Homo sapiens: one gene and its partners. The protein of the gene in region 1 purifies or fractionates together with the protein of each later gene. This does not show direct contact. Each region holds a gene or a part of one and is shown on either strand. Other genes may lie near its edges. The genes, in order: MSTN, PCSK9 and PCSK6.

Region 1 (2,497 bases):
CCAGATGAGTATGAGGATATTTTTGTAAAAATACAAATTCACACTCTCCAGAGCAGTAATTGGCCTTATATCTTTTAGGAGCGATAATCCAATCCCATCCAAAAGCTTCAAAATCCACAGTTAGAGGGTAACGACAGCATCGTGATTCTGTTGAGTGCTCATCACAGTCAAGACCAAAATCCCTTCTGGATCTTTTTGGTGTGTCTGTTACCTTGACCTCTAAAAACGGATTCTGTTTGAAAAGGAAAGAACAATCAGTAATATCAATAGGCCTGGAAACACTTTTCTACCTACCTTAAGAAGTTATTGTTGAAGTAATAAACTAATAATTTTGCTCATACCACATTTATTTTTAAAAGGCACAGCATTAAGGAATGTTAATTTACACTAGGCTTGATTTTCCCCTTATGTCTCAAAAGAATTTAACAGCAATACAAATTCCCCTAAGGTCAGTACCATGTCTTTTTAAGTTTTATTTTTCCAAGTTTGAGTACCAGATTGCCTGGCACATAATGGATGTCCTGAAAATATTTATGGGAAGAAAGGGAGGGAAGGAAGAAAGGAGAGAGAGAGGAGAAGAAGAAGTGGGGAATGAAGGAAAGAGCTAACAGCTCCCTCTCTTCTTGCTTCCTGATTAAATATGTTGGCTAAATATGCCTGGTAACTCCTGGAGGGTTAGGTATAGTCATCCATCCTCCTCACTCAGGAAAACTTGGACAATAAAACCAGGGCAAAATAGGGAAGGACAAATTCAGAAGAAGAGACGATGATATTTCCTTTATTCTTTCACTGGAAAATGTTTCTATTCAGGTATTTAAAAATTTGTTGATTCTGTCTCTGCCCCAATCTTTTAATGCATTTGAGACTTTGTTTCCCTTTACATGAAAAAATCTGAGGAACACAACATATTAACCACTGGACATATTATCAATTTTGATCATTAAAATTCTACCTATAAAAAGGAACACTTTCTTAAATAATTGACAGTAGTTTTTAACCCATATCTAAATGAAAATAGCTCTGGCAGTGTTATTTAAGACTGTCAAAAATAATAATATCATTTTGGGAGTCATTAACATTTAAAGTAGCATATATAAAGGAAACTAGATCATTTAGAAAATTGTATAGTCTTTTAGACACCTGCACACGTATGTTTATCGCAGCATAATTCACAGTTGTAAAGATATGGAACCAGCCTAAGTGCCCATCAGCGGATGAATGGATAAAGAAAATGTGGTATATATACACCATGGAATACTATTTAACCATAAAAAAGAGTAAAGGAATGTCTTTTGCAGCAAATTAGATGGAGCTGGAGGCCATTATTCGAAGGGAATGGAAAACCAAATACCATACGTTCTTACTTACAAGTGCGAGCTAAGCTATGCGTACGCAAAGACATACAGAGTAGTATAAGGTACTTCGGAGACTCAGAAAGGGATGAGGGATTAAAAACTACATATTTGGTACAATATACACTACTTGGAGTGATGGGTGCACTAAAACCTCAGACTTCACCACTGTACAATTCATCTATGTAGCCAGAAACCACTTGTACCCCCCAACATATTGAAGTAAAACATGTGTGTGTGTGTATAAATATATATATACACATATATATAATAAAGTAATAAAAATGAAAAAATATTGTATAGTATTTTAAAGAATGTTTTATTTAGAGTAGATCTGATCTGCTAATTATATCATCTTTATAACTAAGATCATTGAATGATTACAAAGGTAACAGGTTTGTTGTTTACAAGTATAATCTTCTTTTGTAAATTATATCAATAGATGAACGTAAAAAGATGTGATCACATTAAGTATTTGAAAACAGAAATTTAGGTAAGCCAGAAGAGTAACCCTAAATTTGTACTAGGAATTAAAATGGTTTTTATTAATTTTTGTGATATATAAGGTATTGTCATTTACTTGGCCTGGTACTAAATTAGTCGGCCTTCCCTGAGTAAATTTTTGCACAAGAATGCTAAGGCAGCTCAGAAATAAGCTAGGTGGCAAAGGTTAACTAGTATGTAACTTGAAATTTTATTAGGAGTATTCCACAAAGAAATATATACACACATCAGTGCATCAACATCCTACAAATAATGAACATATTTATCTTGAGAAACCTTAAATATATTTAATAAAGTATAAGCCTATAAATATCACTCTTAATTTCTCTGAATAAAACATTTAATTATAATTTTAAAAGGTTTATCTGTTTTATGCTAAGCCAAAAATCTTTAACACATTTGGCACCCTTCTGGGAGAAAAAAATAATGTTTGGATTTGTTGGTTTATGTGGTAAAATCCACTATATAGAGTTAATATTTTAATACATACAGTCATGTATCATATTAATGAAAAGCACTTTATATTTCATTCCCAATTCAAAAGGACTTCTTAAGAAGTTAAGAAGTATGGTATAATTGTTTTCTAAAATCTTGATGCAAAGTAAGAGTATCAAGGGAGTGTTTCATAGGATATGAAATTG
Region 2 (3,500 bases), on another chromosome or scaffold:
AGGCACTAGCAGGAGTTAGAAGGACAAGAGTGCATCAGCAGCTGGGAGCGGTGACTCACGCCTGTAATCCCAGCACTTTGGGAGGCCGAGGTGGGGGATCACCTGAGGTCGAGAGTTCGAGACCAGCCTGGCCAACATGGTGAAACCCCATCTCTATTAAAAATACAAAAATTAGCCAGGCATGGTGGCACACACCTGTAGTCCCAGCTACTCGGGAGGCTGAGGCAGGAGAATCGCTTGAACCCGGGAGGCAGAGGTTGCAGTGAGCTTGAACCCGGGAGGCAGAGGTGCAGATATGGCACCACTGCACTCCAGTCTGGGCAACAGAGTCTCAAAAAAAAAAAAAAATGGTGTGCATCTGCCCCACTCCCTCCCTACCTCCTGACTCCCTGCGCATGGCAGCGGTGAACCCTCGGGTGATTCCCCACAGGCAGCCTCTCCTCCATGCCACCGGCTCCAACTGGGCAGAGGGAAAGCTATTCCCTCTCCTTACCCTTCAGACCTAAGTGGTAACAGCCTCCTGCCACAACTAGTCCCTGGATGCCTTCGTATCCCCAGAGGCTTCTTAACCTGCCCCCACTTCAGCGAGTTTCCGTACCTAGCATCTGCTGAATGCTTCACGACCTCATTTAGTCCTTAAATGAATGTTCCAATTATTATAACTGGTTTACAGATAGAGGAATGAGGCTCAGAGAGGTGAAGGGATTTGCTCAGGGTTAGACAGCCAATAAGGGGCTGGGCAGGACTCGAACCCAGGCTGGTATGATGCCCAGTTTGAAGTCCAGCTCTCGATGGCAAATGCCTGCAGCCTTCTGTTTGCCTTCTGCTTGGCCTACTCTCCTCTGAGCAGCTGCCCTGGCCTGTGGGGCTCGTGCCTGTCATCTGGTGCTATACGGGTACCTTCTTCGTCTCTCCCCAAGGCTGAGCACATTGTCCCATAGTCAACTGTACTGGCAGTCACTGGTCAGTCTCTCCTCCTGAACTGTAAGCTCAAGGGAAAGGCCTGAGCTGTGTCATCTTCGCCTCTGCAGCACACAGTAGGCACTTGGTAAACGTGTGTTGAGCAGACTGATGGAAGGCATTGACTTGTCAGTCTCCTCTACTTAGACTACGGGTTTCCAAGGCAGGGACCCTGTCAATCCCTGTCATGGCGCCACAGGCCTTGGTATGAGGTAGCTGTTCAGCCACGGTATGCTGAGCTGATTAACCCATGGGGCAGCAGTGCAGTGCAGCTAGGAGACCCAGGTCCAGACTCCAGACTCTGACCCTGCCCATTACACGCTGTGTGACCTTGGACAAGACCGTGGGGCCTCACTGTCTGCAGGAGGCTAAGAAGCACCGCCTGCCATGTGGAGAATCAGTGTGAAAATGACACACGCTCTCATCAAGTTAGAGGCCAGGAAACGAGGTGGGCTAGAAGGTGGTGCAGAAGCACAAATAAAAACGTTTTTTTAAGATTTGAAGCACTAGGGCCAGGGTGAGGAGAATACCCAGTCCCCTTTCTGCCCCTCCACCGAAGATGTGACATCCAGGAGGGAGGAGGGCCACCCTGTCCTAAAGAAGGGACTTCACTCTGGATAGCAACAGCTTCAAAGGAATTTTGGACCCTAGAGTCATGCTTTTTTATAAAATGACTCAGGCTCCACTGAACATCCCAGGGCCTTGTCCCTACAGGTTTCCGTAGGCAGCAGATGCATTGGCACAAGAATGGCTGGCAGGCAGACCAATGGGTTTGATCCAGGCTCTACCCCTAGCTGTCTGTGTGGTCCCCTCTGAACTTCAGTCTCCTCGTCTTTCAAATGAAGATAGACGTACCACTGGGGCATGGCCAGGCTTAAAGGGAATTCTATACAGAAAGCCAGTAGTTACTGTGCTTGGTACCCGATAAGTGCTCAATACATACTTGCTGTCCCCTTCTGATTTTCAGCAATGGGCCTACTAAGCACAGTCCCCAGTGTATATGCAGTGGCCCAGCCCTATCAGGAAGTGCCATTCCCAAAAAGGGTGGCTCACCAGCTCCAGCAGGTCGCCACTCATCTTCACCAGGAAGCCAGGAAGAAGGCCATGGAAGACATGCAGGATCTTGGTGAGGTATCCCCGGCGGGCAGCCTGGGCCTGCAGGCGGCGGGCAGTGCGCTCTGACTGCGAGAGGTGGGTCTCCTCCTTCAGCACCACCACGTAGGTGCCAGGCAACCTCCACGGATCCTGGCCCCATGCAAGGAGGAACATGATGACATGGAAGAAACCCAGCAAACCCTAGGTGTACTTTATCTCACCCCTACTTACAAATTACAACAAAAGAGACACAACAGAGTATAGTAGATGATAAAGAAGTTACCAAATGCGGACCAAAAAGCAAATTAAAGAACTCATATAGGCCAACTATTATTATTCACATGGTTATATAACACTTTCAAATGTGCCATTCAGGCAAAAATGGGAACTACGGGCCACACTCGACAACAGGTTTTCCTCTGTACCTGCACCCAGCTCTCTACGGGCCTGGTCGCTCCTGGTGGCCCTGCCCAAAGGCCACCCCCTCCCCCATGCCCCAGTCAGAATAAATTGAGGGAAAAAATCATGGGCTTTGGAGCCAGGAAACCGTGGACCTGAATTCCAGCTCCAATATTTACTGGTTGTGCAGCCATGAGCAAGTCACTCAACCTCTCGGAGCCTCAGATACCTCTGCTGTATTGTAGAGACCACAGTACCTATGACATAGGCCTGCTGGGAAAGTCAAGAGTGACGGTTATATAAATCTCCCATCCAGATGCTCTACAAATGCAGGCAGAAGGGATGACTAAGTGAGCAAAGGCAACACTTCTTAAAGAGAGAGAAAAGTCAAGGCCACTGTCTTAGTCCTTTTGTGTTGCTATATAAAGGAATACCTGAAGGTGAGTAATTTACAAGGAAAAGGGATTTATTCAGCTCATGATTCTGCAAGCTCTCCAGGAAGCATGGCACCAGCATCTGCTTCTGGTGAGGGCCTTAAGCTGCTTTCACTGATGGCAGAAGGTGAAGGGGAGCCTACATGTGCAGAGATCAATCACATGGCAAGAGAAGAAGCAAGAGAGAAGAGAGGGAGGTGCCAAGCTCTTTTTAATAATCAGCCTTCAAGGGAAATCATAGCGGGAGAACTTACTCATTATCACAAGGACGGCACCAAGCCTTTCACAGGGGTTCCTCCCCCATGACCCAAACACCTCCCATTAGGCCCCACTTCCAACACTGAGGACCAAATTTCCACATGAGATTTGGAGGGGACAAACAAATTATAGCAGCCACTATCTATGGTGATTTGTTTGGTTTTTAGCTCTTGTCTGCTCCAACTGCTCTCAGGCAGACATACCTGCTTAAGAACCTTCACTGGCTCCCCACAGCCTCATGAATCAAGTCCAAACTCCATGCTCCTCCTTGGCCCCTACCTCAACCTACCTTGCAGCCCCATCACCCATATCTCTGTATATATGCATCTTGGACTCCAGTCAGAGTAGAACAGA
Region 3 (3,832 bases), on another chromosome or scaffold:
CTCCTGTTCTCCCACCTCCATTAGGGGTGACTCACACCTGAAGAAATGATGAATCACGTGGGTTACAAAACCAAAGGGCTCCTGAGAGCGAGGCTGGAAAGGACCTCGGAAACCATCTATGCAGATCCTGTCCTCAGCCCATCCCCTCTCGCCCCAGCCTCTCACCTCCAGCTGCCAAGCCACAGACTCCAAGTGAATCCTGCACGCTCAACAAGAGACCGCTCCTGGAACTGACCATCAGAGAAGCAGCTTCCTTCCCACCTCAAGGCCTTCTCGACCTTTTTGTTTTACTTCCTATATTAAGCAGGTTGATGGCTTGCTTTCTGGAAGTGGGCCAGTAGGACCAATGGGTCCTGGGAGGGATGACAGAAGAGATCCAGCAGCGATCCTTACCCTTCATAATTCCTTGATTATGGTGTGAACATTTCCATCCATCTCCAGGGTGCTTCAAATCATTATCCACTGGATACCAGGCTGCTCCAGGAAGCAGGGGTGAGGATGATTCAGCTGACTTTCTACTGCTGGTCCCAGCTCAGTGGGTGCTTTTAAGAGTGTACATCGTCTAGTGAACACCTACCACACGGCAGGCCCTGGGCTCATAAAAACGAACGTTTACGGACAGCTTATTGTACAGCAAAAGCTGACCTCATCCTCAAATCAGCCCGACGGGGTAGATGCCACTGTTCCCCGCATTTTGCAGGTGGGGCGCCTGCCCTCAGCCACCACAGTCATTTGCCCAAGATCGCAGCGAGGCTAAGCGGACGGCCTGGGGGTTCACCTGCACGGCCTGGGGGTTCACCTGCGCGGCCTGGGGGTTCACCTGCACGGCCTGGGGGTTCACCTGCGCGGCCTGGGGGTTCACCTGCGCGGCCTGGGGGTTCACCTGCACGGCCTGCCTCCCAGCATGGGCCGCGGCCTCCGCCATGGGCTCCGTGCGGTGGTTTCTCGGGTACACGCTCGTGAGCCCGGCTGATGCGCCACATGCCTTTGCCCCGCTCAATGTGTCCCTTCAGCCAGGCTTGGTCCCGGGCGACCCACTGTCTTCCCCGCAGCTTCTTCTCCCTGGGACCCCGCACACGGGCGAGCCCTCCGTCTAGGGAGGCGGGCGAGGCCGCCAGGCGTCTGAGGCCCCCGCCAGGTGAGTGCGGCCTTCGGGTGTCCGGCCGGTCTAGGGAACCGGGGACTCACCTGAGACGCCGGGGCCTCCCCGCTCCCAGCAGAACTCGCGGGCCGAGGACGCCTCTGGGGCGGCACCGCGTCCCGAGAGCCCCAGAAGTCGGCGGGGAAGTTCCCCCGGTGGGGGGCGTTTCGGGCCTCCCGGACGGCTCTCGGCCCCGGAGCCCGGTCGCAGGAGCGCGGGCCCGGGGGCGGGAACGCGCCGCGGCCGCCTCCTCCTCCCCGGCTCCCGCCCGCGGCGGTGTTGGCGGCGGCGGTGGCGGCGGCGGCGGCGCTTCCCCGGCGCGGAGCGGCTTTAAAAGGCGGCACTCCACCCCCCGGCGCACTCGCAGCTCGGGCGCCGCGCGAGCCTGTCGCCGCTATGCCTCCGCGCGCGCCGCCTGCGCCCGGGCCCCGGCCGCCGCCCCGGGCCGCCGCCGCCACCGACACCGCCGCGGGCGCGGGGGGCGCGGGGGGCGCGGGGGGCGCCGGCGGGCCCGGGTTCCGGCCGCTCGCGCCGCGTCCCTGGCGCTGGCTGCTGCTGCTGGCGCTGCCTGCCGCCTGCTCCGCGCCCCCGCCGCGCCCCGTCTACACCAACCACTGGGCGGTGCAAGTGCTGGGCGGCCCGGCCGAGGCGGACCGCGTGGCGGCGGCGCACGGGTACCTCAACTTGGGCCAGGTGAGTGCGGCCGGCCCCGCGCGCCCAAAACTTTCCCGGCGGCCTCCGGCGCGCGCGAGGGGGGCGCCTCCGCAGTCCTGTCCGCCCGGCCCCGGCCCCGCGCGCGCGTGGGAAGGCTCCGGGACCGCTTGGGGACGGCGGGCGGCCGGGGCGCCCTGCGGGGGGGGGTGTCGCCCGGGGGGGCGCGCGCGGGACACTCGGCGGGGTGGGGGGGACTGGGGTCCCGCGTGGGCGCCCACGCAGGTCCGGCGCGCCGACCGCAAGTCCCCCGGCAGTGCCGCCCAACCCCGCGCTCGGAAGTGTGGCCTCAGAAGCCGGGGCGGCGCGGACACCTGCCGGGCTCCGGGGGAGTCTGGGCTGCCTCAGGCGTCGCGCGCCGTCCGCCGCTGGGTCCTGGGCGCCCACCCGGCTCTCCCCCGCGGGGGAGCGGCCCCTCTGCCCTCGACGGGCGGCGCGAGCTCCGGACCCGGTGCGCGCGCCAAGGCGGCCGCGGCCGCTGCTTGGGTGACATGAGCGTGGCCCGGCGTCTCGGGGACTCGCGCTCCCTCGGTGTCCGCGGCTCCCGGGGGTAGATGGCCGGGAGCCTGCACCCTGGAGCCCGGCCGCCGTCGGAGAGGCCTTGGGACAGCGCAGGGCCGGGGGTCCTGGGTTTAAAACCTCTCCAGGAGCGGAGGGAGGGCGCTTTGTGTGGGGGCTTCTGCCGCGGTTCTGATGGCCGAGCGGTGTGACCTTTGGCAAGTCGCTCCCCTGACAAGCTCCTTTGCAGTCAGTGGCAATGTCTACACCGCTGGGTTGTCGGAAAGATCTAATGCTGCGTTGCCACAGAGCCTGGACCGGGGCCTGACCCTCACCGGCCCCCACGGGGCCCTCCCAGCCCCGCAGCCCTCGGCTGTCCCCTCTTCTGTCAGTGAGCAAGCAGGCCACGCCCTGGGCACAAAGGCGGCATTACCCTCAAAGGACCTCCCGGCGGGTCCCTTTTTCCTCTCTCAACCAGCTACCGGGCTGAGGGGCGGTGAGTTGGGGTTGATCCATGTTTATGGCTCCTGGAGAGGCCGTTATTTTGAGGTCACACCAGGGGACCTCTCAGTGCAGTTAACAAATCTACAAACTACACACTCAGAGGGTTAAGTGAAGTGACAGGGAAGCACCGACTCATAACTCTAAACCTTAGTGCCAGGCAGTGTTAAATGTAGTTTCATCGTTATCCGTGGCAGAAGCCAGCAAGGTGTGGTGGCGTCCCTGATTGATAGAAATGACATTAGTTCTGCATCCCAAGCCCCACGTTGATGTACTATTAGGTGTGTGGCTGGAGGGGTGGATTCCACCATTCGAATGAAGGAATCTTCACAAGGCAGGTTCGAGTTTACTGAAAGAATGCTAGCACATCTTTGGAGACCTTTTAAATATATGCATATATATATATAAAATGTTACATATATACACATATACACACATACATATACGCACATGTATATCCATATAGATATTTAGTTTTTTTAACCACTCAAGGCCCTCCAAACATCCTGTGATTTCAGATTTTGCCGTCGGGTAGCACTGACTTCGTTTGTCTCTGTAGTTCTTGACTCTCCCTGGCTGATTGTCCAGGCTGAAGAAGGTGTTCCTCATGTTTGCGTAGTGCCCCTGGCTCCTGCCACACTTCGCTGCTGTGCCCAGGTGGCCCAGCAATTTGTCTTCAGCTAAAAGTGACTCTTAAACTACGCGATAAATTACAAAGTGCCTGGGTTTTGGGATTCTAAAATTAAATGAGCAGAATGGAGCTGAAATTGAGCTGTGAGCTCACACTGCAAGAGAGAGGCAGAGAGGCACAGGTAACTCTCCCCGGAAATTTCTATCTGTGGGAATAAAAATGCCTAACCCTTGGCCATGCCGCCCCTTTGAGACAACCTCTGTCAGGCTCACTGAGTTCTTAGTGCAGTCTGCTCTCCTGGTTTTGCGGATGGGAGAGAAGATTCGCCCCGATGCACACTCCGTACCCAG

The links.
Region 2: the proteins of MSTN (region 1) and PCSK9 purify together in Homo sapiens (affinity purification with mass spectrometry; one large-scale study listed by BioGRID and IntAct). This does not show direct contact.
Region 3: the proteins of MSTN (region 1) and PCSK6 purify together in Homo sapiens (affinity purification with mass spectrometry; one large-scale study listed by BioGRID and IntAct). This does not show direct contact.

Annotation. Positions count from the first base shown.
Region 1 is NC_000002.12:190,057,407-190,059,903, forward strand, and holds part of MSTN (growth/differentiation factor 8 preproprotein), read right to left. Parts: intron 233-2,497; coding exon 1-232. UniProt on the Homo sapiens protein: Acts specifically as a negative regulator of skeletal muscle growth.
Region 2 is NC_000001.11:55,042,548-55,046,047, reverse strand, and holds part of PCSK9 (proprotein convertase subtilisin/kexin type 9 isoform 1 preproprotein), read right to left. Parts: intron 2,206-3,500; coding exon 2,014-2,205; intron 1-2,013.
Region 3 is NC_000015.10:101,487,376-101,491,207, reverse strand, and holds the start of PCSK6 (proprotein convertase subtilisin/kexin type 6 isoform PACE4-AI preproprotein), read left to right. Parts: upstream 1-1,500; 5' UTR 1,501-1,537; coding exon 1,538-1,834; intron 1,835-2,054; exon of another isoform or gene 2,055-3,832. UniProt on the Homo sapiens protein: Serine endoprotease that processes various proproteins by cleavage at paired basic amino acids, recognizing the RXXX[KR]R consensus motif.